4 linked regions of the Homo sapiens genome follow. The protein of the gene in region 2 interacts with the protein of the main gene of each other region in a pairwise test. Each region holds a gene or a part of one and is shown on either strand. Other genes may lie near its edges.

Region 1 (7,024 bases), on a different chromosome or scaffold from region 2:
GAGCCCCGGGCCCCCTTGTCTCTGCATCCTGGAGGCCAGTCGTCCCGGCGCGGGGGCAGCTTGGCCACAGGCTCCTCTGGGGTCCGCTCCTTGGGCTTTCGGCCCCGCTTCTTTCCACCTGCCAGATTTTTCTTCTTTTCCTTCTTGGGCACCAATGAGTCCTGGCTCCTGTGTTTGGGAGGTGGGTCTGCTGATGTTCGGAACCAGTTCTGGGGAGAGAAAAGCGCTGATGAAGACCTGGGACTGGATGCTGAGCACCTGAGCCAGGCATAGCCTGAGAGCTGAAGACCTGTCAGCCTTCAGGACCAGGCAAGCACCTGCAGCAGGGCTGGACACAGCCTTTAGGACCAGGCAGGCACCTGCAGCAGGGGGCTGAACACAGCCTTCGGGACCAGGCAAGCACCTGCAGGGGGCTGGACACAGCCTTCGGGACCAGGCAAGCACCTGCAGCAGGGCTGGACACAGCCTTCGGGACCAGGCAAGCACCTGCAGCAGGGCTGGACACAGCCTTCTGGACCAGGCAAGCACCTGCAGCAGGGGGCTGGACACAGCCTTCAGGACCAGGCAGGCACCTGCCGCAGGGCTGGACACAGCCTTCAGGACCAGGCAGGCACCTGCCGCAGGGCTGGACACAGCCTTCAGGACCAGGCAGGCACCTGCCGCAGGGCTGGACACAGCCTTCAGGACCAGGCAGGCACCTGCCGCAGGGCTGGACACAGCCTTCGGGACCAGGCAGGCACCTGCAGCAGGGGGCTGGACACAGCCTTCGGGACCAGGCAAGCACCTGCAGGGGGCTGGACACAGCCTTCGGGACCAGGCAAGCACCTGCAGCAGGGCTGGACACAGCCTTCAGGACCAGGCAAGCACCTGCAGCAGGGCTGGACACAGCCTTCAGGACCAGGCAAGCACCTGCAGGGAGCTGGACACAGCCTTCAGGACCAGGCAAGCACCTGCAGCAGGGGGCTGGACACAGCCTTCAGGACCAGGCAAGCACCTGCAGCAGGGGGCTGGACACAGCCTTCGGGACCAGGCAAGCACCTGCAGGGGGCTGGACACAGCCTTCGGGACCAGGCAAGCACCTGCAGCAGGGCTGGACACAGCCTTCGGGACCAGGCAAGCACCTGCAGCAGGGCTGCTGGGGGCTGGAAAGGCGGACACCCCGAGGGCAGCTCCAGCTCAGGGTGCAAGCCTCCCAGTTCTCCCAGGGAAGCCAGACCCCACTTTGAGGAGAAACTACCAGATTTCTCCACATTGGCCACTCTCCCAGGCACACCCCATGCAGGCCACTGACCTCTCTACCCCCAAGGGGTGCCCAACCCCAGCCCTGTCCCCTCCTGGGCTAGCCCCCAGCCACAGGCCCTGGTGATGGCCCTCGCACCTCTGCGTGGGTCTTCAGGATGTGGTATTTGACGCCACTCTCAGAACTGAACTCCTTCGGACACAGCAGACAGCGGTACTTCCCTGCCAGGTGGGCCCCCTGCAATGCATAGGCAGGCCAGTGCCCCAGCCCTTGGAGGACCCAGATCTGTCCTAAGCCCCTACTCATGGCTAAAGGGTCAGAGTCAGCGGTGGCCCAAGGAAAGCTGTGGCTGTCTGTGCCAGACAATGCAGGGGGCCACTGAGTTACCAGGGCGGCAGGGGTGGTAGGGGAGAGGAAGGGTAGGGAGAGGCAGGTGCCCAGGGGAAGAGTTGCAGACCTTTGCCGAGCATCCCTTATTGTAAGCCAGTGTGCCATCTGCGTGGGTCGGGGTGCCCACCCATGCCTACATGGACGCAGAGCTCCAAGGACAGGACTAGGACTCGTTGTCTTGTGGCTGGGGTTGGGGCGAGGGAGGTGTCCTAGGCTGGCCATCAGCCACCGGCCAGTCTCTGGGTTCGTGGAAGAGGAGGCCACGTAGAAAAAGTAGGGGACAAGGCAGGGTCCCTCACTACTGTGTGGGAAGCCCGCGTGGGGTGAGCTGGGAGCTCTGAGTGCAGCGCACCTGGCCGTGGGGCAGGCCCCAGAACTGACCTTACTGCAGCTGGCGAGATGAGCCTTGAGTCCGGACACGCTGGAGTAGATGGCTTCACAGCACTGCAGGGAAGGGAGCCGTGGGCGAAGGCCTCTGGTGGGCACCCCACACCAAGATATACCCCTGCCCTACCCCAGGGGATCTCTGAGGCTCTTTGGGGCAAGTGAGGGGGTGTGAGTCCTGGGGACTGGGCAGGCTGGGCATGTGAGGCCTGGGGTGGGCTTGGGCACCTCCTGAAAGCTCTCAGCCTCTGTTCCTGCTCAGAGGGCCACACCCAGGCTCTGGCCCTGTATGGCTCCCCACGCCCCCCACCCGGCTGCCTCCGCTCACGTCGTTGGGACAGTTGACGTGGCCTTTCTCCTTCACTTCATTCTTCCATGCCTCTAGCAGCTGGGGGTTCAGCGTGGGGAGCCCTGGTCGAGTGTAGTTGAGCTGTGAATTCGACAGCACCAGGGTGAGCCTGAGGCCAGAAGACACCCCAGCTGCTCTAAGAACACTCGCCTCGGCAGCAGGCGACACTCGCCGCAGATGGCGGGGGCAGCGGGTGGCCCAGGTCACAGCAGTGGCTGTCCCAAGTCTCAGGCCAAGGCATGCCCCACGCAGAGGCCACGGCGCTGTCCACAGCCCTGGGGGGGGCAGCTCACCCGTGCGGTCTCGGGCACAAGGTCATCCTTCATGCGCCGCTTGGTCCAGTCGCGGGCCAGCTCGTCCTCCGCTATCTCCTGCAGGTGGAACACCGCCACCTGGGCCGACGTGCGGCGGACACGCCCGCTTGGGGTCCGCTCCACACCCAGCGGGTCCTCAGCCTCAGGGGACTTGTCTGTGGGCTCCTCAGGGGGCTGGAGGGCAGGAAGGCATGGAGGCTAGAGTGAGCCGCGGGAGCAAGAGTCAGGTCAGCGCGCGGCGAGGCCACCCTAAGGCCGGTGGACCCACAGGCCTCCCAGTGTGCTGGGGACATGGCTGACGCAGGCAACCCGAGGGAACACGGAGGTTTCACCCTCCCGCCCACCAGGACACACGTCTCTTACAGAGAGGGGTGGGAAACACACGCGTTGGGCGGTACATGGACAAATACAGTTGGCACCCAAGGCACACGGAACACACACGGCACACAGGAACAAGCACTGTGCCACAGAACAGAGAGCCACTCACGGGGGCCGTGTGCTCCGAGCGCACGTGGTAGTCGTGGCCAGCCTTGGATCGGTACGTCTTGCCACAGTGGGTGCAGGGGAAGGAGGGGCTGTCCACCTCGCAGGGCGGCTTCCCGCAGCGCCGCTGGTGGTACTGGTAGCCCATGAGGCTGGAGAAGGCAGCCCCGCAACCCTGGGGGTCAGGCCAGAGGGTGGGTGAGTGGCCAGCAGGGCCCCCCCACCCCACACTGCCGCGGCCCCCCACTGACCTCCTGGGGGCAGCGCAGCCGTCCCATCTGCTTCAGCACCTTGCGCAGCCTCTCGCGCTCCTCCTGCTCGCCCCCTTCGGAGGCCTCGGCGTCAGAGGGCTGGGGACAGGGTGAGCATCGGTGACCCGGCACCATCGCCACGGAGCCCTGCCCTGGCCCCGCCCCGCCCAGGTGTTGGGCCACCGTTGTCCGAGGTTAGAAACCGGGGGCACTGCGGTGAAGGTGGGGTGCGAGGTCAGAGGTCACGCTGGACGGGAGCTGGGGGCCCGACGGTACCTTGGCACTGTGCTCGGCCATAGTGTGGTAGTTGAGGCCGGCTTTGGACTTGAACTGCTTCCGGCAGTGCTGGCACTTGAGTGCATCCTGAAGCTGCAGATGGCCCACATGTGAGAAGCCTGCCTGGGGCCAGGGCGCCTCCCTCCCAGCGCCTTCCGGGAGCTGCCTTACCTTCTGACACACCTCCATGTGCTTCTTAAGCCCCACGAGAGTCTTCCGGGTGACCACGTTGCAGGTGGGGCAGACGGCTTCCCCGCGCTCATGGATGGCCCTCTGCCACTGCTCTTCAGGGCCACCTGTGGGTAAGGCAGGGGCCTCGAAGGCTTGTGGGGGCTGCTGGGTGGCCCAGACGCCAGGCACAGAATCCAGTCTCCACACTCAGCCCCCATCCCTGTGCTGTGGGATCTACCCGCCGTCTAGAGCTGCCCTGAGCCCCTGCCAGGCAGCCCCTACCTGGAGCTGGGTGGGCCACAGGGGCCGGTGCCTCCTTGCTGACAGTGATGGGGGCAGCTGGCACCTTCTTCCGGGCGTCCTCAGGGCCTGGCCCCTCCTGCTTCTTGGAGCGGTGAACTCGGGCCTTGTCCTCAGCTTTGACCAGGCCTGTGTGCACACATGGGGTGGAGAGAAACAGGGATGGGCTCAGGGGCTGTCACTCGGTGGACAGCCCCAGCCCTGGAGGTGCACACCGGGCTGGGGTCTTACCTTTGAGCCCAAAGGTCCCTGAGATGGATGGCTGCTCCCCTGTAAACTTTTTGGGTGTTTTCTGTTTCCTTCCTGACTCGGGGAGAGAAAACGGGGGCCAAGATTCTGGTGAAATAACCGTCAGGAGGCCGAGCCTGCCCCGGCCGCCACCCCTGGAGCTCTCATCTTACTGTGCTTTGTGCGCTCCGGGTCCTCCTCAGGCGGGGACGCAGGGCCTGCAGCCTTCAGTGCCTCCATGCCCCCTGACGGCCTGCTGCCTGGCGACAAGGAGCCACTGCTGGTGTCTGCACTCAGCTGGAAGGCCGAGCTCTGGCCCATGGAGGAGGGGCCGTACTCCCCATTCTCTGGCCTGGCCTGCTTGGGTGGAATTGGGCAGGTGTCCAGGCTGTCCGCAGCCCTGCAGGGAGCAGGTGAGGTGAGGGCCAGGAGGGCCTAACTGTGGGCCCCATTACCCCCAGGCCGTGGCCGAGGAGCACCCTGACCTGGAACGAGCCCCCATACCTTTTCTCACCACTGTTCCCCGACCTGGGACAAGCCCCCATACCTTTTCTTACCACTGTTCCCTGACCTGGGACGAGCCCCCATACCTTTTCTCACCACTGTTCCCTGACCTGGGACGAGCCCCCATACCTTTTCTCACCACTGTTCCCCGACCTGGGACGAGCCCCCATACCTTTTCTCACCACTGTTCCCTGACCTGGGACGAGCCCCCATACCTTTTCTCACCACTGTTCCTCCCCGACCTGGGACGAGCCCCCATACCTTTTCTCACCACTGTTCCCCGACCTGGGACGAGCCCCCATACCTTTTCTCACCACTGTTCCCTGACCTGGAACGAGCCCCCATACCTTTTCTCACCACTGTTCCCCGACCTGGGACGAGCCCCCATACCTTTTCTCACCACTGTTCCCCGACCTGGGACGAGCCCCCATACCTTTTCTCACCACTGTTCCCCGACCTGGGACGAGCCCCCATACCTTTTCTCACCACTGTTCCCCGACCTGGGACGAGCCCCCATACCTTTTCTCACCACTGTTCCCCGACCTGGGACGAGCCCCCATACCTTTTCTCACCACTGTTCCCTGACCTGGGACGAGCCCCCATACCTTTTCTCACCACTGTTCCCCGACCTGGGACGAGCCCCCATACCTTTTCTTACCACTGTTCCCCGACCTGGGACGAGCCCCCATACCTTTTCTTACCACTGTTCCTCCCCGACCTGGGACGAGCCCCCATACCTTTTCTCACCACTGTTCCTCCCCAACCTGGGACGAGCCCCCATACCTTTTCTCACCACTGTTCCTCCCCGACCTGGGACGAGCCCCCATACCTTTTCTCACCACTGTTCCCTGACCTGGGACGAGCCCCCATACCTTTTCTTACCACTGTTCCTCCCCGACCTGGGACGAGCCCCCATACCTTTTCTTACCACTGTTCCTCCCCGACCTGGGACGAGCCCCCATACCTTTTCTTACCACTGTTCCTCCCCGACCTGGGACGAGCCCCCATACCTTTTCTTACCACTGTTCCCCGACCTGGGACGAGCCCCCATACCTTTTCTCACCACTGTTCCCTGACCTGGGACGAGCCCCCATACCTTTTCTTACCACTGTTCCCTGACCTGGGACGAGCCCCCATACCTTTTCTCACCACTGTTCCTCCCCGACCTGGGACGAGCCCCCATACCTTTTCTCACCACTGTTCCCCGACCTGGGACGAGCCCCCATACCTTTTCTTACCACTGTTCCTCCCTGACCTGGGACGAGCCCCCATACCTTTTCTTACCACTGTTCCTCCCCGACCTGGGACGAGCCCCCATACCTTTTCTTACCACTGTTCCTCCCTGTGGCACGAGGTGCTTTGTTCTCCGACCTGGTCAGCAGCACCATTTTGCAGGGCGGTGTGTGTCTGCTGATAGCAATGGGCCTGCTGACTGTCACCGGCTTGCTGACCACAATGGGCCTGCTGACTGTCACTGGCTTGGTGACCGGCACGGGTTTCGTAACTGTCACAAGCTTTGTTACCGTAATGGGTTTGGTGACAGGTACGGGTTTGGTGACCGGCACAGACTTGGTGACTGTGATGGGTTTGGTGACCGGCATGGCCTTGGTGACGGGCATGGGCCTGCTGACTGTGACAGGTTTGGTGACTGGCACGGGCCTAGTGACCGGGATGGCCTTGGTGACTGGCATGGGTCTGCCGACCGAGACTGGCTTGCTGATGCCAATGGGTTTGCTGACACCCACAGGTTTGCCAATAGTGACAGGTTTGCTCACTCCGATGGGCTTGCTGACCCCAACAGGCCGGCTGATGGTGACCGGCCTGCTGATGGGCCCAGGCTTGGAGGCAGGCAGGGGTCGGTCCATGTGGTTCCAGATCCGGTGTTTCTCCAGCTGGGTCTTAGAGGTGAATGCGGCCTCGCAGAAGGGGCAGGGGAAGGCCAGGCGATCTGAGATGGCACCCTGGGCAGGGAAGGGAAGGTTTGGGACAGGGCCCCAAGGGCCTCTGCCCAAACACACCCCGAGGCCTCCTCTCCCCCGACCCACAGTCCCTTACCCCTTGGCACCGCTGGTAATGGTACTTGAGCCCGTAGATGCTGGGGAACTCCAGCCAGCACCCTGAGTTTGGACACTTC
Region 2 (7,024 bases):
CTGCAGCCGCTGTTCATTGAGGCACTCCAGGATGCTGTTGCCGAAGTTCGGGATCTCCATCTGCAGTGTCTGGGCCATGGCAGCGGCTGCACGAGGGGCAGGGAGGAATGGAGAGACAGAGACGGAGGGACGGGGTCAGGCGGCAAATGTGGGTGCTGGCCTAGCCCTGGCCCCAAAGACCTCCCCTGCTGGAGGGACATCCGCACGATGGAATCTACCATGGTGCTAAACCACACAGAGCCCTCTACCCTATCTGTCCTGGTACAGACTCACTTTTACAATATGTGGTCAAATCTGCTAAGCTAGCTGCAGACCAGGGTGGCCACACGCTATCCCTTGCAAAGAGGAGGGGGCAAAGGCATACTTATTCATATGTACTTGAAGAGTAACTGAATATGCTTAAGTGCTCGGAAGAGTGGCTAGGACACAGTGTGCTACCTCTGAGTGCCAGCTATTGCAAGCACCAGGTACATATATGGTATCTCTTCAGGGTACTGGCATGGAAATGCCAGAAAGGCAGGGTCATCTGACTGTGCAGCAGAGTCTGCAGTGCTGGGCACATGCCCTTCAATCACTGTTTGTATAATGACTAAATGACCACTCAAGAAATTACATGAGGTCAGGCGCAGTGGCTCACTCATGTAATCTCAGCACTTTGGGAGGCTGAGGCAGGCGGATCACTTGAGGCCAGGAGTTCGAGACCAGCTTGGCCAACGTGGCAAAACCCTGTCTACCAAAAATACAAAAATTAGCCAGGTAAGGTGGTGTGGGTATGTAGTCCCAGCTACTAGGGAGGCTGAAGCCAGATAATTACTTGAACCCAGGAGACAGAGGTTGCAGTGAGCCGAGATTGTGGCACTGCACTTCAGCCTGGGGCATAGAGTAAGACTGTCTCAAAAAAAAAAAAGGAAAAAGAAATTGCATGAGGCTGGGTGCAGTGGCTCATGCCTGTAATCCCAGCACTTTGGGAGGGCAAGGCGTGTGGATCACTTGAGCCTAGGAGATTGAGACCAGCCTGGGCAGCATGGTGAAACCCTGCCTCTTACGAAAAATACAAAAATTACCCCGGCATGGTGGAGCACACCTGTGGTCCCAGCTACTAGGGAGGGTGTGGTGGGGGGTGGATCTGTTGTTGAGCCCAGGTCAAGGCTGCAGTGAGCTGTGATTGCGCCACTATACTCCAGCCTGGGATACAGACAGAGACACTGTCTCAAAAATAAATAAATAAATAAATAACTTACATGAAAACATCTCTAGTCATCAGGGAAATTAGAAGAAAACATCATCAGGGAAATGCAAATCCTAACCACAATGAGACACCATCTCACACCCACTAGGATGGCTGGAATCAAAAAAGTTGGTGAGGATGAGAAATCCAGAACCCATTTCCACTGCTTGTGGGAATGTCAAATGGCACAGCCACCATGGAGAACAGTCTGACGGTTCCTCAAACGGTTAAAGAGAGTTACCATATGACCCAGCGATTCCACTCCTGGAATTTATGCCCAGGAAAAACGAAAACATTTGCCTGCATTGAAAACCTGTAAACAAACGTTCACAGCAGCATTATTCACAATAGCCCAAAGGTGGAAACAATCCAAACGTCCATCTGCGGATGGATGGGCCAACTAAACATGGTCAGTCCATACAATGGGATATTATTCAGCTATAAAAAGAAAGGAAATTCTGACACATGCTACAACATGGATGTCCCTGGAAAAGATTATTCCAACAGAAAGAGGCCAAACAAAAGGACCACAGATTGTATGATCCATTTATAGGAAATGTCCAGGACAGGCAAATCCACGCAGACAGGAGGCAGATTAGTGGTTGCCAGGGGCTGGGAGGCGGGGAGAATGGGGGTGTGGTGAGGGAAAGCAAAGGGAAGGCAAAGGTGTGTGGGGTTTATTCTTTTTTCTTTTTTTTTTTTGAGATGGAGTCTCACTCTGTCGCCCAGGCTGGAGTGCTGGGATTCCAGGTGTGAGCTATCACGCCCGGCCTCCTCTGTAATTCTATAGGGTCTCTAGAGGGCAGTGGTCCTAACTGGGCAGAGTGCGAGTGAGAAGGCTTCCCTGAGTAAGGCAGATCTTTCCAGACACTCCAGCTGGCCAGCAGGAGAAAGTAACAAGTACATGCAAAGGCCCTGGTGCAGGAATGCACACCTTCCCTCCCTTCCAGTTAGCTCTCAAGCACCTTCCATGTTTCATTAGCAACTCCACTCAGATCTGCCTCCCTGGGCTGGGCACTGAGAATACAGTGGCCACTCTCCTCCTAATCTGGTAACACCCGTTCCGTCTGAAAGGGCTGCTGTGAGGAATAGAAACGGCAAGTGTTCAAAGGCTCAGAGGTACAACCTAAGGTTGAGTCCTGGCTCCAGCACCGACCTGCTCCTCTGACCAGGAGCTCCAAATCTCTGCTTTCTCCATTTGGAAATCGAGGCTGAGGAGGTCAACCTGATTCTACAAACTCAACCTACACTTATTGTTACTGAATGATCATTCAAGAAATTACACGGAAACATTACTAGTCATCAGGGAAATGTGAATCCTAACCACAGTGAGATACCATCTCACTTACTGAGCTGCTACCCTGGCAGGCCACAAGCAAGACACAGGCCCTGCCCCTTACAACACCCAGGCGAATGGAGGAACCAACTCACAACTTCTATGAGCTCCCCGAATCCTCTTAGCAAGACTTCAGGGCTGGTTTCATACTCCCCTTGCAAAGCTGGAAAAACTGAGGTCATGTGGAAATTGAGGACTGTCCTGAGGTCATCTAAAAATTCATTCACCAGGTTCAAAATTCAAAAGATATGTCCTGAAGGGCGGGATGACTCAAGCCTGTAATCCCAGCACTTTTTTTTTTTTTTTTTTTTTTAAGACAGAGTCTTGCTCTGTTACCCAGGCTGGAGTGCAGTGGTGCCATCTCGGCTCACTGCAACCTCCGCCTCCCAGGGTCAAGTGATTCTCAGCCTCCTGAGTAGCTGGGCCTACAGGCGTGTGCCACCATGTCCGGCTAATTTTTGTACTTGTAGTAGAGATGCGGTTTCACCACATAGGCCAGGCTGGTCTTGAACTACTGACCTCAAATGATCCACCTGCCTTGGCCTCCCAAAGTGTAGGATTACAGGCATGAGCCACCACACCTGGCCAATCCCAGCACTTTGGGAGGCCGAGTCAGGTGGATCACCTGAGGTCGGGAGTTCGAGACCAGCCTGGCAAACACGGTGAAACTCCATCTTTATTAAAAATACAAAAATTAGCTGGGTGTGGTGGCCGGTGCCTGTAATCCCAGCTACTCGGGAGGCTGAGGCAGGAGAATCACTTGAACCCGGGAGGGTGGAGGTTGCAGTGAGTCAAGATTGTGCCATTGCACTCTAGCCTGGGCAACAGAGTGAGACTATGTCTCAAAACAAAAACAAACAAAAAAACCCAAGATATGTCCTGAGCTATCTGCTGCCCCTACCACTTACATGCAAAAAGTGGTAAGGCCAAGATTCAAACCAGGGTCTGCCTAGGCACCACAGCCTGTGACTTCCCTTGCTTGTATCTTCCTTCCTCTTCCCCTCCTCAAAATCACTGCCACCATCCTACGAAAACACAAACAAAACAAAACAAAACCCCAAAACCTCCTTAGGGCAATCAGAGGGTGGAGGCTGGATCTAGGAATCCCAGTTACAAGGCAACAAAAATCTCCGCCCAGGAGCTCAAACTCAGAGCTGAATGGGCCAGGAGCTGGCCACTCTGCATGAAGAGGCAGGAGAAACAGGCACCATGTTGGGGGGCAAAGGACAGAGCCCAGAGAGCCTACTTCAGGGGTCCTGGCAGCCCTGAACCACCTCCCTGGGCAGCCAAATTAAAGCCACCCCTGGTACTGGGGCCCACATGACAAGGACCAAGATGGTCAAGGGAAGAGGCTGGCATCCCAGTTCCTAGAGGGGTGCTCCAAGCTCATTCCCCAGGGAGGAGGACAAAGCCAGGACAGGTGTGCAGTGCTGCCAAAATCCTGCACCTGCCTGTGCCTCAGTTTATTCATCTGTAAAATGGGCTGTTCATCCAACCCATCCTGATGAACTGCATCCTCCTTTGTGGGAGGTGCTGGGGACACAGCCCTAAAAGGACCAGCTGTGCTTATGTGGAGCTGTCTAGTGAGGAGACACCGGGGATGATTTAATTACAGTTGGGGTGGGTATGTCAACCAAGCAGATGGCCTTGGTGGTAGGGACCATAAAAGGTTGAGCAACTGCCAGGACAGAGATAACACTTCTGGGCGGGAAGGTATCAGGTGTGGTCCAGGGACCCAAAGAAAGCTGGTGTAGCTGAAGGGCGATGTAGCAGGGACAGGGCTGCCAGGAAGGGTATGGGACAGGTGGGGTCCTGGCCTACAGAGTGTGGACATCTTTGAAAGTGAGCCCCAGGGTCAGGGCAGCATTTTAAGAGTTATATGTACAGGCCAGGCGCGGTGGCTCACGCCTGTAATCCCAGCACATTGGGAGGCTGAGGCGGGCAGATCACCTGAGGTCAGGAGGTCAAGACCAGCTTGGCCAACATGGTGAAACCCCGTCTCTACTAAAAATACAAAAATTAGCCGGGTGTGGTGGTGCACATCTGTAGTTCCAGCTACTCAGGAGGCTGAGGCACGAGAATCACTTGAACTTGGGAGGTGGAGGTTGCAGTGAGCTGAGATCGAGTCACTACACTCCAGCCTGGGCAACAGAGTGATACTCCATCTCAAAAAAAAAAAAAAAAAAGAAAAGAAAAAAGAGGTGTATGTACAGTTAACCCCTCCAAGGGCACTGTCAGCTCAATGAAGGCAAACATTCTGGCTGGTTTTATTCAAGATTAGTTCTTTAGAATGAAATAGATGCTCAGTAAATATTTGTAAATGTGTTAAAGAACAGTGCAGAGAGGCTGGGCACGGTGGCTCACGCCTGTAATCACAGCACTCTGAGAGGCAGAAGCAGGAGGAGCCCCTGAAGCCAGGGGTTCAAGACCAGTCTGGGCAACATAGTGAGACCCCTATCTCTACAAAAAATTTTAAAATTAGTGGGGCTTGGTGGCTTGCACCTGTAGTCCCAGCTACTTGGGAGGCTCAGGTGGGAGGATCACTTGAGCCAAAAAGTTAGAGGCTGCAGTGAGTGATGATTGTGCCACTATATTTCAGCCTGGGTCATAGAGCGAGACCCTGTCTCTAAAACAAAAAAAGCAAAAACAAAAAACCACATCCCCCGACCCCACTACCCCACCAAAACCAACCAACCAACCAGCCAACCAAACAAACAAACAAAACAGTGCAGAACGGGCACAGGACTGCTTCAAGGTGACCTTACCAAGCACCCAGCACCGGCCACAGGTAATTTTTTTTTTTTTAAAGACAGGGTCTCACTATGTTGTCCAGGCTGGTCTTGAACCCCCCCATTTGGCAATGGAGACTGAAAGGTTACGGGGATAATAGGAGGCAACAGAGATGTGGGGGTTGGGAAGGTGGCCCAGGTCCCCTCCTGAGAATGAGAGCCAACCTGATGCTCAGACTGAGGTCCCCCATACCTTGTGAACCTCAGCTTCAGAGCCCAGCACCACAGCACCCAGGGCTTTGGAGCCTTTGATTAGCAATTGGTCCAAATAGCTCAGCCAATTAGCGCACGGGAGCTCTCCCTCCCTCCATGCTGCTGGGGACGAGCGGAGTGGGGCGACGGGTCTGTGAGCCACAGTGACCTGAATGCTGTTCGTCTAGTTCCCCAGTGGCCCCCGCACAGAGTGGACAGGGGTGAGCTGCAGTGTGGGCCAGAGCAGACCCATCTCTGGGAACCCCTCCATCCCTCTGTGATTGGCCCAATCCGGCCCAATCCTGCCCAATGGACTCAGGAGAAAAACTATGTGGGCCCCTGCAAGAAGCCCTCACCCACGCTAGCCCCAGGAAGGGAGCTAGCATGACTGGACTCAGAGGAAACGGGTCTCTCGCTGGCAGGTCCCTAGCAGGGTCACCTGCTGGCTGAAGCAGGGGTGGGATGGAGTCGAGGATTGAGGTCTCTAAACCACCTAATGGTTCTAGTCCCCACCAAATCCCCACCTAAGTCAGGCTCAAACACACTGCCTGGTCCTCCTCTACTGCAGCGAGGCCTTTGCCCAAGCTGTGCACCCTGCCTGGAATACCCTCTTCCTCCACCCTCAGCTACTCACTTCTCCAGGCTAGAGAAGATGTCCCTCTCCTGCCCCACCCCGGCCACAGTGCCCTTAAGCTTACCTCTGAGGAAACTAAGTCCCACTTGACTATAAACTCCCCAAGGGCAGAAAACCATATGAGAATCATCTCTCCTTAAAATTCAGCATATCAGCACCCCTGAGGGTGTGGGGGACAAGGGCAGGAGGCCACAGGGCAGCTGGGACCTTCCTGGCCAGGACAGTGCCTAGTCCTGGCCCTGGGCCTGAGCAGATCTTCTGGTGAGACCCAAGGGCACAGCACACGGTTTCCATGACTTCCCAACAACTACTCAATAAATATTTGCCAGGTCCCTGCCTGGGCAGGCCACAATGGTGACAAAGTAGCCCTGCCTCTGGAGCTCACAGTCCAGCAGGAGACAGGGCCATTCATCCTTGGTCACACAGATCAATGTGCTACACACTGGGGTGCCTGACCTTGCCCAGAAGGGGTGACACTGGAGCTGAGATCTAGGAAGGGCAGTAGTGGATGGGGAGTGTGGCCCTTCCAGAAAGGGTTTTCACCTCCAGGGGACTGGGCTCAGTCTCAGGGCTCTGCTATGGACAAAGTATGTCCCTCCAAATTCACAGATTGAAACTCTGAGCCCCAATGTGCCTGTATCTGGAGATAAAACCTTTGGGAGCTAATTAAGGTTAATTGAGGTCATAACGGTGGTATTAAGAAGGCAGCTGTCTGCAAGCCATGAAGAGAGCCCTCACCAGAACCTGACCACGCTGGCACTCTCATCTAGACTGCCAGCCCCCAGCACTCTGAAATATAAATGTCTGTTGTTTAAGCCACCCAGTCTGTGATATTTTGTTGTGTG
Region 3 (7,024 bases), on a different chromosome or scaffold from region 2:
TTCCTAGGCTGGGAGTGCCTGAGTCAAAGAGCACAGTCATGTGTTGCATAAGGACAGTTCAGTCAAAGATGAACCACATATACAACCGTGGTCCCATAAGATTGTCATATACTGTATTTTTACCATACCTTTTCTATGTTTAGGTAAGTTTATATGCACAAATACTTACCATCCTGCTCTGGTTGCCTACAGTATTTGGTACAGTGCCTGCTGTACAGATTCACTGGCCAGGAGCTATAGGCCACACCCTACAGCCTAGGTGTGTAGTTGGCAGTACCATCTAAGGTTGTTAAGTAATATTCTGTGATGTTTGCACGATGACAAAAGTCATGTAAGGACACATTTCTCAGAACATACCCCCTTCGTTAAGCAACACATGACTGTCTTTGCATTGAAAATTTTGATAGATACTAACTCGCCCTTCACAAGGGTAAAAACAGTTTGCACTCTCAACAGCCATGCTCCCACCTTCTTGCTGACATTACATCTTATTCTCTGTAATGTTTGCCAATCTGATGGGGGGCGGAAAGGACCACAGTGTCAAGTGTATTTTTGGATCATAGTTTTCAAGCATATTTTTAGTACCATTTATAATTTTTTTATATGTCAATATAAAATATTTAGAAAATATTTTCTACTGGATGTTACAAATTAATCTTTATTATCTTTTCTCAGGACTTACAAAGTACCCAAGCATCTAGTCTGGAACTGACAGAGATAAGTAGAGAAAATGTAAATATTAAATCTTTTAATGAGCCACTGGTTTAAAAATGTTGTTTTAGCTGCCATGTTAATGAAATGGCAAGAAGGCTGGGTTTTTGAAAATTATGCTTTTAGAACGCAAGTAATCACTTGAAAATTGAGATACATACTTGTGGTGCCAGGCACGCAGTAAGTTTTTGCTGATGATTCACCTGTCAGTTTCTGTAACTGCCACTCACTGTTCTTATGTAAAAAGCACTCTCTCACTCTTAACTGCTGAATAGTACTGTTCTGGGGTATTTCCAAATATTGAACATCAGCCAGTGCACTGGCAAATGAACTTCCATGTGTATCTTCAACCCCTGGGAGAATAACTGCAATTTAAAAATGCGCTGTTATTAATGGAGAAAGTGAGGTCTTACCGACTGGCACGTTCACACCTCACAGACAGAACAGAATCTTAGCATTCTGGGGGCACCCTGGAAAGGACAACTAAGACACGTTTGAAGTTCATGTAGTGCTGGGTGAAGGTGGTGGCTCAGGCCTGTAGTCCCAGCGCTTTGGCTGAGGTGGGGGGATTGCTTGAGCCTAGGAGTTTGAGATCAGCCTGGGCCACATAGGGAGAACCCCATCTCTACAAAAAATTAAAAAATTATCTGGGCATGGTGGCGCATGGCTGTGATCCCAGCTTTGGGTGGCTGAAGTAGGCGGATGACTTGAGCCCAGGAGGTTGAGGCTGCAGTGAGCCATGATTGAGCCACTGCATCCCAGTGTGGATGACAGAGTAAGACCCTGTCTCTTAAAAAAATTTCATATAGTTCTATGAAAAATTATTAATTTATGGTGGAGGATAAAGGACTCAGATGAACAGGGATATCAGACTCTCTTCTCAACCCGTGTAGCCCTTCACAACACCATACCATTCCGTCATAAAGCACCAGCTGCCTGGAGGTCACACCAGAGTGGAGCAGGAACATCCCAGGCTCCGGCCAGGCTCAGCTCAGCACAACCAAGACTTCAGATTATAAACTATAATTCTTCCCCTTCTAACATTGTTGTGTTTTGTTTCTTTTCCAATAGGTTCCAAAGTCTGGCACGCCCCAGCTTGTGAGTATTTTTGCCTGGGTTATTTCATGTGGAATATTTTATAAAGTTGCATAGAAAATGAACAGTTTAAACCGTGGAGGGCAGCTTCATTCATTCCATTCCTTACTGTAGAACTGTTTCCCTACAGCCTAGTAATAGAGGAGGAGACATTTCTAAAATCGCACCCAGAACTGTCTACACCAAGAGCAAAGATTCGACTGTCAATCACACTTTGACTTGCACCAAAATACCACCTATGAACTATGTGTCAAAGGTTTGAAGAGCACCAAATTTTCTTAACTCTATATAAAAATTAAGTTGTAATGAGCTGTTACGAGTAACCTGTATCCACAATAGAGGCCCAAAGCAGCCCCCTCTGCATTTGTGTGCCGTCCCTGGACGGATTCGAGAGTCAACCAGGCCTGCCTCTGAGCCATTCCTGTGTATTTCCTCAGCACCTCCCTGCTTGGCTGCTTCCCCTTCAGGCAGAACACAGTACTGCCTCAGACCCCAGGCACAGGGGGCCTTCCTGGCGTGTTTCACTCATACAGAGGGCATCGGGTCCCACCCTGTCACTCATTTCATCGTCTAAAATGTAATCATGTGTGTTTGCTTCGAGCCAGGGACAGTGCTGCTGCAGGGGACCCAGCTGGGACCAAGGCAGACTGTCTCTCCCCTCCTGGGATTTACAGGGTCATGGCTCTGAAACATTCCGTAGTGTTCTTTGGACACGAGTTTTCCCTGGAGATCGCTTTCTGCAGGCCTCTTGGTCCTGACTGTGGCTTCTTTTCAGAGGCTGCCATTCGCTGCAAGGTTGAACACCCCCATGGGCCCTGGACGAACTGTCGTCGTTAAAGGAGAAGTGAATGCAAATGCCAAAAGGTCAGTATCCTTCGGTACCAGTCACAGTGCAGATACTTCCGTGCCTGTTACCGCCTTCCACCCGTGAACGGTCCTGTGAGCTGGAAGAAGGGCTAGCGTCAGAATCTTCATTTCCAAAGTGAGATGATTCAAGCAGGAGGTGGTTAGATTGTGAACAGCCAGTGGGCAGCAGAGCCGACTAAGGCCGTGTTCTGACCTCGGCTTTTTCTGGCCAGACAAGAGAGTAGCATTTTTGTCCACGAGGCCTATCCTTGCCTTGTAGAACTCCAGAGCAGCCCCGTAAGATCAGGCAACATCTTTTCTTTTTTTTTTTTGAGATGGAGCCTCACTGTGTCACCCAGGCTGGAGTGCAGTGTCACAATCCCAGCACACCACAACCTCCGCTTCCTGGGTGTTCAAGCCATTCTCCTACCTCAGCCTCTGGAGTAGCTGGGATTACAGGCGCACCACCACGCCCAGCTACTTTTTGAATTTTTGTATTTTTAGTAGAGACAGGGGTTCACCATGTTGGCCAGGCTGGTCTGGAACTCCTGACCTCAAGTGATCCGCCCACTTCGCCCTCCCAGTGCTGGGATTACAGGTGTGAGTCACCACGCCCAGCCCAGGCAACATTTTTTAGGGCCCCTCTTGTCATGTGATTTAGAAAATTTCTGCTTTAACAACTTTTTCCACAGACGTCCAGCCTTCTGAAAGCTTGAAATTAGAGCTATTTCCTAGAAAGTGGCATACTTTCAAGAAGGAAGGAACACGGGTAGATGATGAAAAGAGAATACCTGCTTGAGAGGATCCCAGGCTCCTGCAGCCTGAAGTAGTCATTCAGTTTAGCGTTAAACCTTCCATTTCTGTCCAACCACATCTCAGCCTCAACGCTGATTTTAAAGGGTTTTTTTTTTCGTATTTTTATTTTGCAAGTAACGAATTAGTGGAATGCTGACTGGGTTTAAAATTTCAACTTCACCTGCATTCCCATGTCCATGTGGATACGTGTGTTTCATAGAGTTAGAATCATAGTTCAAGTCTGGTCACTAACATTGCTGAAATTGCCACTACTCTGTCCTACTTGGTTAATTAAGGTTTTTTTTTTTCTTTCTTTCTCAAAAGCTTTAATGTTGACCTACTAGCAGGAAAATCAAAGGATATTGCTCTACACTTGAACCCACGCCTGAATATTAAAGCATTTGTAAGAAATTCTTTTCTTCAGGAGTCCTGGGGAGAAGAAGAGAGAAATATTACCTCTTTCCCATTTAGTCCTGGGATGTACTTTGAGGTGAGGTTACAGTTTTTGAAAATGGGACAGCAATAAGAATCCTGGGAGCAGGGGTGGGATAAGTGGTCCATTTAAATCAAGTCCTAACTCAGTATGTGGAAGTTGTGTATGTTTTTTGTTTACTTGGAGATTGTAATTTGCCCCTTTTTATAACGTGGGCAATCAGTATAAATGGCAAAGCCAGTAGAGTGTCAAATTATGCACATTGGAATTGACATTTGTCATCATATTAAAATTCCTGTGTAGCCCCATATTGATAGGAATTTAACCAGGAAGCTTGTCTCAGGACTGGAGTCACACATTTAATCATATAAGCAGACTTGAGGACGTGGAGACCCTAAAACTGCTTGCTTGCACTGGCCATCATCTCCCATCAGGGTAGACGGTTTCAGGTGGCAGTCCTTTCTCCTAAGGAGTTAGTCTTGTTTGTATGTATTCAAGGAAAAATACATCAGTCCCTTGGAACTAAAAGGCATGCAGTCCTGAGTCCCCAGATAGGTGAATATTGTAACACATACCTTTCCCGAAATATGTTTCTGGGATGCTGAGCAGAGAATAGTCTCCTTGTGATGCGGATGCCGGGTGTTTGGCCAGCCTCAATCACCAGCTCAGGTGCCACTGCCTCACACAGTCACTTAGGGTCATTGGTTTAGGTTATCATTCTACAGCATTTTAAACTGACACATTGTCTGGACCATGTGGGTTCTTGAGGACTCATCAAAACTCGTTACTAAAAGCATGAATATCAGGCGGAATAGATAGCAATGTGACATTCATATTTATCCCTAAGTTCCAGTCTAATGCAGTGCCCTGGTATGTGGAGTGTAGACAGATGTGGGCTAATCATGGAAGGTTCCCTGAAGTTGTGGATATTGGTTTGGAATTCAGAAAGCTGGGAAGGATGTGGAAGGCTGAAGGTTGGCTTTTCTAGATTTAGGGCATGATTTGAACAAGTCCTTAGAGGTGGGAAGGGCAGCACAGGGTTGTTAGCTTGGCAAGAGTCAAGGCGCAAAGGGTGACTTGGGGTTCACTGGAGGGAAACAGAGGTGAGTGCTCTAGAAGGAAGTTGAGCCTTGTGGTGGGTGACAGGAAACCAATGATGTAACTTGTTTTTGACCTATCTGGGCCCCAAGTTTGGATCTGCTATATTAATATAAAAAAGGATAATAATGATACATTCAAATAATGCTGAAAAATACTAAGATGAAAATACCTCCAACTTCATAATTCAAACCATACCATTAGGATTAGGTGAACCACATTCCAGGCATTTTTTTGCAGAGACAGTGAAAGGGATGGCTGGCTGAAGGAATGAATAGATGAATGTTATATGCTTTTGAACAATCGTCTTTTCCATTTAATTTTCTAATTCAGGAGCAGTAATTATCCTTGTGTTGATCACTGCTGACGATTTTCTATACTGATAGGTCCTTTCCGGGGGCTTCCATCTCTTGCCTTTTAAATATGCTTGCATTGAGATTATCTCAGGTCTTTCCATTATGCCATTACTTTCATTTTAAATCTTCTTGCTCTTTCAAATACACTTTAGTTGTATCTACAGTTTTTTAAAAACAATCTCATTCAGTGTTGTAATTTCATCTGTGGGCTCTTCCTCTGGATGAAATCCGTGTTCCAGCTGTTCGGCAGCATCAGATGGTTGTGAGGGATTCTGTTGTTCTGTTTTCTTCTAGGCAAAGGATGTGCCTTCTTTTCATTTGCAGTAGTCTGCTCACCCGGAAGCATGTCATTTCTTTGCCACTTGCTTGTAATTCACTGGCTTTGCACTTGCTCTGATACAGTACAGGTAACTAATTGACTCCCTCTGCTGCCAACTTGGTTTTCCTTCTGAGCTATAGCATCAGGCTGTGTGTTTTGTGTTTTCTTGAGATTTTGTTAAATATATCTGGGGTCCCTTCTACCTGGTTGGAACTGGGATTCCCACCATTCTTGTGGGGATAGAATCTCAGGTTACACCTATTTCCCCAATCCTCTGTAGCCACAGAAGCTTCATCTTGGCCAGCTGTTATCAGAGTGCAGGACTTGGGCTGAAATTTCCTCCCCTTCCTGATTTTCCTTGACAGTCCTTTCCACTGCTCCTATCAAAAGAATGGAAACCCTCAACTTGCTGCTTTGCAGATTCAGGTTTTGTGCTTCATTCTGGCCTCTCGGGGTGGGGCCGGGTTAGCAGCAAGGCTGAGCTGCCCCTCTTTCTTCTGAAGCCTTCATGGGGGCGAGGAGCACAGGGAGAGCTCAGTGCAGGGCCTCCCAGTGGCCTTCTCAGAGTGGGTGGAAACCCAGCCTGGCACTGGCAGCGTGGCACCAGAAGTATGAAGTGTAGGTGTAAAGGTGATGTAAAAGGCTAGTAGGTTTTTTGGTTTTTCATTGTTTGAGTTTTGGGCATAGATGACTGTGAAGGGCGAACACTGCCGATGGATCTGAATTTGTAGTATGTGCACCACTTCCAACTTACGGGATACCCAGCTTTGACGGCTTTGGACAAACACACTGAGGCCAAGATGTGCTGAGCTTATCAGGATCAGGATCACCAAGCAGCTGTAAAAACCCTAGCAAGTGCCTTAAGCTGCTGAAATTTCATATTAATTGTCTGGTTTGTTCATGGTCCTAGAGTTTGAGGCAGAAAAGTCAGTCAGGATCCAAGTCCCTTGGTTCCAGGCTACAGCTGGAAACAGCATCTCGGTGAACTAAAGCAACCATATTAGGAGTGAGTTTTCCTGCTTTAGGAGAGTCCCCAGCATCGGCGAGGAGGGGCAGCACTCTGGCTTTCCAGGAGCAAGGGGCAGGATGCGGCCGAGGGAGAGGGGCTGTGTTGAGGAAAGGAGGGCCGCAGGCCCTGGGGATGGTGTGAGGCTCCAAACATGTCCGAGTCACTTCCCTGGGTGGGATGAGGCAGACAGTGCCACCACCAGGGACACTTTAGTTAGATTAGGGTCTTGGAAGTCAGAAGGAAGTCAGCAGCAGCAGGCTGGAACTTTTCTATGTATAATCAAATGGTTTACTCTGACACCGTTAGCATGTAACAAACACAAAATTTTAAACTAAGGGGAACCACTAATGGCATGTATCCTT
Region 4 (7,024 bases), on a different chromosome or scaffold from region 2:
AGTTTCTTCATGCCCATTAACACTAACTCCTACTCACATCCCCAGCCCTAGGCAACCACTGATCTTTCTGTCTCTATAGATTTGCATTTTTTGGACCTTGGATCTAAATGGCATCATACAATATGTAATGTTTTGCATCTGGCTTCTTTTAGTTAGCATAATGTTTCTGAGGCTCATCTGTATCTGTATTGTAGCATGTATCAACAGTTTGATCCTTTTTATTGCTGAATAATATTCTATTGCATGGCTCTATCAAATTTCTTTAGTCATTCAACAGCTGATGGATGTTTGGATTGTTTCCAGATTTTGCTATTATAAATAATGCTGCCATGAATATTTGTAGACAAGTTTTCTTTATGGCATATGCTTTCATTTCTCTTGTGTAGATTCCTGGGAGTGAAATTGCTGGGTTGAACAATCAGTTTATGTTTATCTTTTTAAGAAACAACTAAACTGTTTTCCAAAGCAATGTGCTGTTTTACACTCTCAGAAGCAACGTATGAGGCTTCTGGTTTCTCTACATCATCACCAACATTCAGTAGTGATGGCTTTTTATTATAGTCATTCTAGTAAGTCTAACTGCATAACAAATGACCCCAAAACTTAGTGGCTTAAAATCAAACATTTATTCCACAATTTCTGTGGGTCCAGAATCCAAGTGTCCTAGGTCCTCTGGCTTTCAGATTTCAAACAAAGCTACAATCAAGGTGTTGTCTGTGGCTGTAGTCATCTCAGGTTGATTAGGGGTCAGGGGGAGAATCTGCTTTCAAACTCACTCAAGCGGTTGTTGGTAGGATTCAGTTCCGTATGGGCTGTTGTACTGAGGGCCTCAGTTCCTCACTGACTGTGGGCTGAAAGCCTCCCTCAGTTCTTTGCCACGTGGGCTTCACCATAGGGTGGCTCACAACAGGGCAGCTGGCTTCCATCAGAGTGACCAATTTGAGAGGGCAAGAAAGTATGAGCAAGACTGAAGCCAGAGTCTTTTTGTAACCTAATCTAGAAATGACAGCCCATTACTTAGAGTCTGTCTACCACATTTGTTGCGGTTTTAATTTGCATTTCCTTAATGACTAATGATGTCGAGCATCTTTTTGTGTGCATATTAGCCATTCACATATGCTCCTTGATGAAATAACTGCTCAAGTTTTTGCCCGTTTAAGAAATTACATTGTTTACCTAATTATTGAGTCATAAGAGTTTGTTACATATTCTGGAAACAAGTTCTTTATTTGATATTTGATGTGCCAATTATATTTTCTATTGCTGTGCTAAAAAATTACCACAAGCTTAGCAGTTTAAATCATCCGAAATTATTTTCTTACAGTTGTGTAGACTAGAAGTATTGTAGAGGTCTCCCTGGGCTAAAATCCAGGTGTCAGCTGGTGCACTCTTTTCTGGAGGCTCTAGGGGAGAAACTGTTTCCTGCTTATTTGGGTTGTTGGCAGAACTCAGTACTTTGCATTGTGGGATCAGAGTCCCCATGTTCTTGCTTGCAAACTTGCGACCTTGTAAACCTTAAAGGTCAATCCCAGCTTCTAGAGAACACTGCATTCTTTAGTTCTTGGTCTCCTTTCCTCATATTCAAAGCTACATCAGTGCCAACAGGTCGAGTCCTTTGCATGTTGCATTTCTCTAACCCTTCTTCCTTGTTGAATCCCCCTCACCACAGTCAGGAAAGATTCTCTGCTTTTAAGGACTCATATGATTAGATTGCACTCAATCAGATAACACAGGGTAATATCCCCATCTCAATGTCTAATTTTTTTTTTTTTTTGAAATGGGGTCTCACTCTGTCACCCAGGCTGCAGTGCAGTGGCACGACCTTGGCTCACTCACTGCAACCTCTCAGGCTCAAACGATTCTCCCACTTCAGCCTCCAGAGTAGCTGGGACCACAGGGGTGCGCCACCATGCCCGGCTAATTTTTTGTATTTTTGGTAGAGACAGAGTTTCACCACGTTGCCCAGGTTGGTCTCAACCTCCTGAGCTCAAAGCAATCTGCCCACCTCGGCCTCCCAGAGTACTGGAATTACAGGCGTGGGCTACTGTGCCCAGCCAAGGTCTTTAATCTTACTCTCACCTATACATCTCTTTACCATGTGAGGTTATACATTCACAGATTCTAGGAATTAAGACATGAACATTTGGTGGGGGGGGTGTTATTCTGACTACCACACAAGTATTTTCTTCTAGTTTATGGCTTGTCATTTCATTTTTTTTTTTCTGTTTTTTTTGGAGACAGAGTCTCGCTCTGTCACCCTGGCTGGAGTGCAATGGCATGATCTCGGCTCACTGCAACCTCCACCTCTCAGGTTCTAGCAATTTTCCTGCCTCAGCTTCCCGAGTAGCTGGGATTACAGGTGCACACCACCATGTCCAGCTAATTTTTTGTATTTTAGTAGAGATGGGGTTTCACCATGTTGCCCAGGCTGGTCTCGAACTCCTGAGCTCAGACAATCCACCCGCCTCGGCCTCCCAAAGTGCTAGGATTACAGGCGTGAGCCACTGCACCTGGCTGTCATTTCATTTTCTTATTGATATCCTTTGAAGAACAAAAGTCTTTAATTTTTATGAAGTCTGATTTCTTGTTTCTTTTGTATGTCATGCTTTTGGTGTTGTATCTAAGAATACTTTGCCTAACCCCAAGGTCCTGAAAATTTTTTTATATTTTCTTCTAGGAATTTTTATAGTATTAGTTCTTCAATTTAGATTTGTGATCTGTTTTCAGTTGATTTTTATATATGGTGCTAGGTAAGGACCTAAATTTTTTTTTTTTTTTATTGTTTTTGGCATGTGGATATCCAATTATCCCACTACGATTTGTTGAAAGATTCTCCTTTTGAGGATTTTTTTCTGAACGATTATTATCTAAAGTGTGTTGTTGCTTTAGGGTCACAGTATGCTTGTGTGCATCTGTTACCATGTCACTGTGGTCCTTCGCTGAGTGCCCTTAGGGGACTAGAATCTTTCCAATAAACCACGTTTGAGATCGTATGAGTCAGCGTGCAGTGTAGCCCACACTTGAGAGTGTGGATTTATGTGCACAGTCACTTTGCTCTGGGTGGAAGTAGGTTATAGTTGACTTACTTTCTCGGTGCTTGTTCCTACAGCCCCTCTTTTCATGTGTTGCTCAATCTCCCTATCCCTTCTTGGTGCTTGCACATCTCAGACCCTTTAGCCAGACCCTTTAGCCAAACCCTTGCCAATAACAGTATTTTTGTTCTCAGTTCTGTTCCCTCTGGTTGCGGAGACTTTGAATAAAAATGCACACACCTATTCAGTGGGATTTAGCTGGAAAAGGTGACCTTCCAACCTCACGTCAACTTCTGGCTCCTCAAACAGTAGGTTGGCAGTAAGGCAGGAAAGTTGTTTTCCCATTTCTCACTGAGCAGATTGTGAATATTTCCATATGGATTTTCTGTTGTTAATGTTGCTCCGATTCTTTGTTTTAAAATAAAAATTCTGAATGTGAAAAAAAGAGACTCTCCTTTCTTCCATTGAATTGTTTGGACACCTATGTTGAAAATCATTGGCTATAATTGTAAGAGTTTATTTGTGAACTCTCGATTCTCTTCCATTGATATATATACCTATCCTTGCATCAATACCACGCTGTCTCCTTTTCTAGGTATTTTAAAGTTTTTGTTACTATTAGGAACGGAGTTAAGGTTATTTTGAATCTAAAATATTCACTCAATAATAGACACTAGAGTCTCTACTACAGGGGAAGGGAGGGAGGATGGCAAAGGTTGAAAAACCAACTTCTGGGTACTATGCTCACTACTGGGGTGGCAGGATTATTCATATCCCAAGCCTCAGCATCGTGTGATATACCCATGTAACAAACCTGCACATGTATGCCCTCAATCTAAAATAAAAGCTGAAATAATTTTTAAAAATTAATAAATAAAATATTAACTCAGAACCGTTTTCCTTAGACTCATTAATATTTAATATATTAATATTAATTACAGATTAAATATTAATCTATTGATTAATTTAATTAATTAATCATTAATCTATTATAAAATTGTCTTGGTCTTGGATTAAAAAGAAAATACAACTTTTATGCCTAAACTAGGTAACCTAAAATTGCTTTGAGTCTACTAAATTCTATCTTGTAGGACTGTGTTGCAAAGATATCAGAGATGTTAGTGTACATATGTTTAGTGTACATTAAATGTCTTAATGAATAGCTTTTAGTTTGTGCTTTGAATTTGAACAGGTTATTGTTATTACTATATATTCACATTCCCTTTGTACAAGTAACATTTCCAAAGCTCTGATCCTTCTTATTCCTTTCAGATCAACCTCTAGAATCCCGTAGACTCTGCAACAAGCCAATTCAGAGCTTGCCCAACATGGACAGCATTTTTAGTGAGGCCCTCTTGAAGATGCGGAGGCAGCACCCTGGGTGTCTTGCACAGGAGGCTTGTGTCCGTGCAGTCCAGGCTGCTGTGCAGTATCCCTATGAAGTGGGCATCAAGAAGGAGGAGGAGCTGTTTCTATATCTTTTGCAATCAGGGCAGGCTAGAGCCCTGCAATATGCTTTCTTCGCTGAAAGGAAAGCAAATAAGTGGTCAACTCCCTCCGGAGCATCGTGGAAAACAGCATCAGCGCGGCCTGTCTCCTCAGTTGGTGTTGTTGGTAAGACCATGGGGTAATGAATGGAATCCTCCAAATCTGCTCATGTAATGTGCTACCATTTGCTTAGGGCTACCGGATGCTAGGTTTCACGTAAGACACATTACTTGTGTTAGCTAAGCTAATTCTCACACCACCCCATGAGCTCTCTTCTTTAACATGAGAGGCCTAGAGACGCCAGCCTTCTCAATGGTGAGCTAAACACGAGTAGGGTGAAAGTCTGACCCTAGGTCTGACTCCAGACTGGGAATGTTTTATTCTTTTTTTTTTTTTTTTTTTTTTTTTTGAGACAGAGTCTTGTTCTGTCACCCAGGCAGGAGTGGAGTGGCTCAATCTCGGTTCACTGCAACCTCCACCTCCCAGGTTCAAGTGATTCTCTTTCCTCAGCCTCCTGAGTAGCTGTGACTACTGCCACCATGCCCAGATAATTTTTGTATTTTTAGTAGAGACAGGGCTTCGCCATGTTGGTCAGGCTGGTCTCGAACTCCTGGCCTCAAGTGATCCACCTGCCTTAGCGTCCCAAATTTCTGAGATTACAGGTGTGAGCCACCATTCCTGGCCTAGCATTTTTTATTCTATGCTACCTCTTCCCTGTATGAATCTCTCATTCCTGGATTTCCTGATGATGATGATTTGTACCACATTTCAAGGTGTGGCCTGTCACTCTCATAGCTGGGTATTTGCAATCAAGTCTCTGTCTTTCCGTCCCCCGATCCATTCACTTCACCTGTTCAAAACCACTATCCTCAAATCCATCTTAACCCTGAAACCATGGCTTCCTTACTTTTTTTCCCTCTGGAATTTTCCCAAACAAAATATCTTCCTTCCTCAGATGCTAGCTCCCTGATTGGCTTCTCTGGGCCACTTTCCTAAGCTTCACTTGCTCTTAGTCTCGGCTCAAGAACGGTCTTTGGTGGATTTTAAATCCCTTGAGATGGTAAGTGAAGCATTCTTTGCACCAGCTTAGGTACAATCTTCTGGGGAGAGGGTCCATAGTTTACTAAAAGCATCAACTTTCTTTCTTTTCTTTTTTTCTTATATTTAAGTTTTTTTAATCATAATTAAAGACATGCAGGAAAGTTATAATAGTACAAAAAATTCTCATATACTTTTTATCCAGATCCTCCAAATGTTAACGTTTTACTATATTTGTTTTATTTCCCTCTCTCTTTTCTGAACCCTAAGAAAAAGTTACAGACTTATGTGTATTTCCTAAAATTAATATTCTCATACATGACCACAGTATAATTTATTTTAAAAAACAGGGCAATTAATATAAAGAACTATTATTTAGTCTATAGCCCTTATTCTGATTTTTCTTTCTTTTTTCTTTTTTTTTAACCATCTTTACGATTTGTAAGTATACAGTTCAGTAGTAATAAATATATTTATATCCTTTTTTTTCCCTTCATCTCCCATCCCCCCCTCCCCTTCCTGGCCTTTGGCAACCACCAATCTACCCTGTATCATTATGAGATCTACATTTTAAGCTCCCACATATGAGTGAGAACATATGATATTTGCCTTTTTGTGTAAAAGCATCAACTTTCTTAACCCTTGCCCAGCTGTCTAGCACAGTGGTCTCCAACCTTTTGGCACCAGGGACCAGTTTCACGGAATACAATTTTTCACGGATTGGGGGATGATGGTTTTGGGATGAAACTGTTCTACCTCAGATCATCAGGCATTAAATTCTCAGAAGGAGCATGCAACCTAGATCCCTCACATGCGCAGTTCACAATAGGGTTCGCGCTCCTGTGAGAGTCTAATACCACCACTGATCCGACAGGAGGCGGAGGTCAAGGCTGAAATGCTCCCTAGCCTGTTGCTTACCTCCTGCTGTGCTAACAGGTCACGGACTGGTACCGGTCCACAGCCAGAGGTTGGCGACCCCTGCTGTAGCACCAACCCAACTTGGAGGCAAAGATCTCACTCCACATTTTCTCAGTCTGTTTGTTCTCTCAATTCAACTTTGGTATCAAAGAATCTGTCTCTAATATAAATACATTGTGCTCCTTTCAGCTCTGACTCTGTTGAGGTCTACCCTTGATTCGCTTGGGATTTTTTTTTTTTTTTTTTTGATATGGAGTTTCGCTCTGTCACCCAGGCTGGAGTGCAGTGGCGCAATCTCAGCTCACCACAACCTCCGCCTCCCAGGTTCCAGCAATTCTCGTGCTTCAGCCTCCCAAGTAGCTGGGATTACAGGTGCTGCGCCACCAAGCCTGGCTGATTTTTGTATTTTTAGTAGAGACAGGGTTTCACTATGTTGTCCAGGCTGGTCTTGAACCTCTGACCTCAGGTGATCCGCCCACCTTGGCCTCCCAAAGTGCTGGAGTTACAGGCGTGAGCCTTTGTGCCCAGCCTCACTTGTGATTTTTTAA

Evidence for each region.
Region 1: the proteins of NACC1 (region 2) and ZNF512B interact in binary tests that used the Homo sapiens proteins (3 or more experiments, as listed by UniProt).
Region 3: the proteins of NACC1 (region 2) and LGALS8 interact in binary tests that used the Homo sapiens proteins (3 or more experiments, as listed by UniProt).
Region 4: the proteins of NACC1 (region 2) and EHHADH interact in binary tests that used the Homo sapiens proteins (3 or more experiments, as listed by UniProt).

What each region holds. Positions count from the first base shown.
Region 1 is NC_000020.11:63,959,931-63,966,954, forward strand, and holds part of ZNF512B (zinc finger protein 512B), read right to left. Parts: coding exon 6,946-7,024; intron 6,852-6,945; coding exon 6,211-6,851; intron 6,079-6,210; exon of another isoform or gene 5,626-6,078; coding exon of another isoform or gene 5,582-5,625; intron 5,574-5,581; exon of another isoform or gene 4,975-5,573; coding exon of another isoform or gene 4,934-4,974; intron 4,787-4,933; coding exon 4,560-4,786; intron 4,466-4,559; coding exon of another isoform or gene 4,462-4,465; coding exon 4,390-4,461; intron 4,288-4,389; coding exon 4,141-4,287; intron 3,984-4,140; coding exon 3,859-3,983; intron 3,781-3,858; coding exon 3,688-3,780; intron 3,511-3,687; coding exon 3,412-3,510; intron 3,336-3,411; coding exon 3,165-3,335; intron 2,852-3,164; coding exon 2,657-2,851; intron 2,445-2,656; coding exon 2,343-2,444; intron 2,075-2,342; coding exon 2,012-2,074; intron 1,478-2,011; coding exon 1,379-1,477; intron 210-1,378; coding exon 1-209. UniProt on the Homo sapiens protein: Involved in transcriptional regulation by repressing gene expression. Associates with the nucleosome remodeling and histone deacetylase (NuRD) complex, which promotes transcriptional repression by histone deacetylation and nucleosome remodeling.
Region 2 is NC_000019.10:13,128,262-13,135,285, reverse strand, and holds part of NACC1 (nucleus accumbens-associated protein 1), read right to left. Parts: intron 87-7,024; 5' UTR 79-86; coding exon 1-78. UniProt on the Homo sapiens protein: Functions as a transcriptional repressor. Seems to function as a transcriptional corepressor in neuronal cells through recruitment of HDAC3 and HDAC4. Contributes to tumor progression, and tumor cell proliferation and survival.
Region 3 is NC_000001.11:236,540,979-236,548,002, forward strand, and holds part of LGALS8 (galectin-8), read left to right. Parts: intron 1-675; coding exon 676-732; intron 733-1,782; coding exon 1,783-1,809; intron 1,810-1,936; coding exon of another isoform or gene 1,937-2,062; intron 2,063-2,581; coding exon 2,582-2,670; intron 2,671-3,771; coding exon 3,772-3,937; intron 3,938-4,183; coding exon of another isoform or gene 4,184-4,243; exon of another isoform or gene 4,244-6,983; intron 6,984-7,024.
Region 4 is NC_000003.12:185,202,038-185,209,061, reverse strand, and holds part of EHHADH (peroxisomal bifunctional enzyme), read left to right. Parts: intron 1-4,304; coding exon 4,305-4,646; intron 4,647-7,024. UniProt on the Homo sapiens protein: Peroxisomal trifunctional enzyme possessing 2-enoyl-CoA hydratase, 3-hydroxyacyl-CoA dehydrogenase, and delta 3, delta 2-enoyl-CoA isomerase activities. Catalyzes two of the four reactions of the long chain fatty acids peroxisomal beta-oxidation pathway.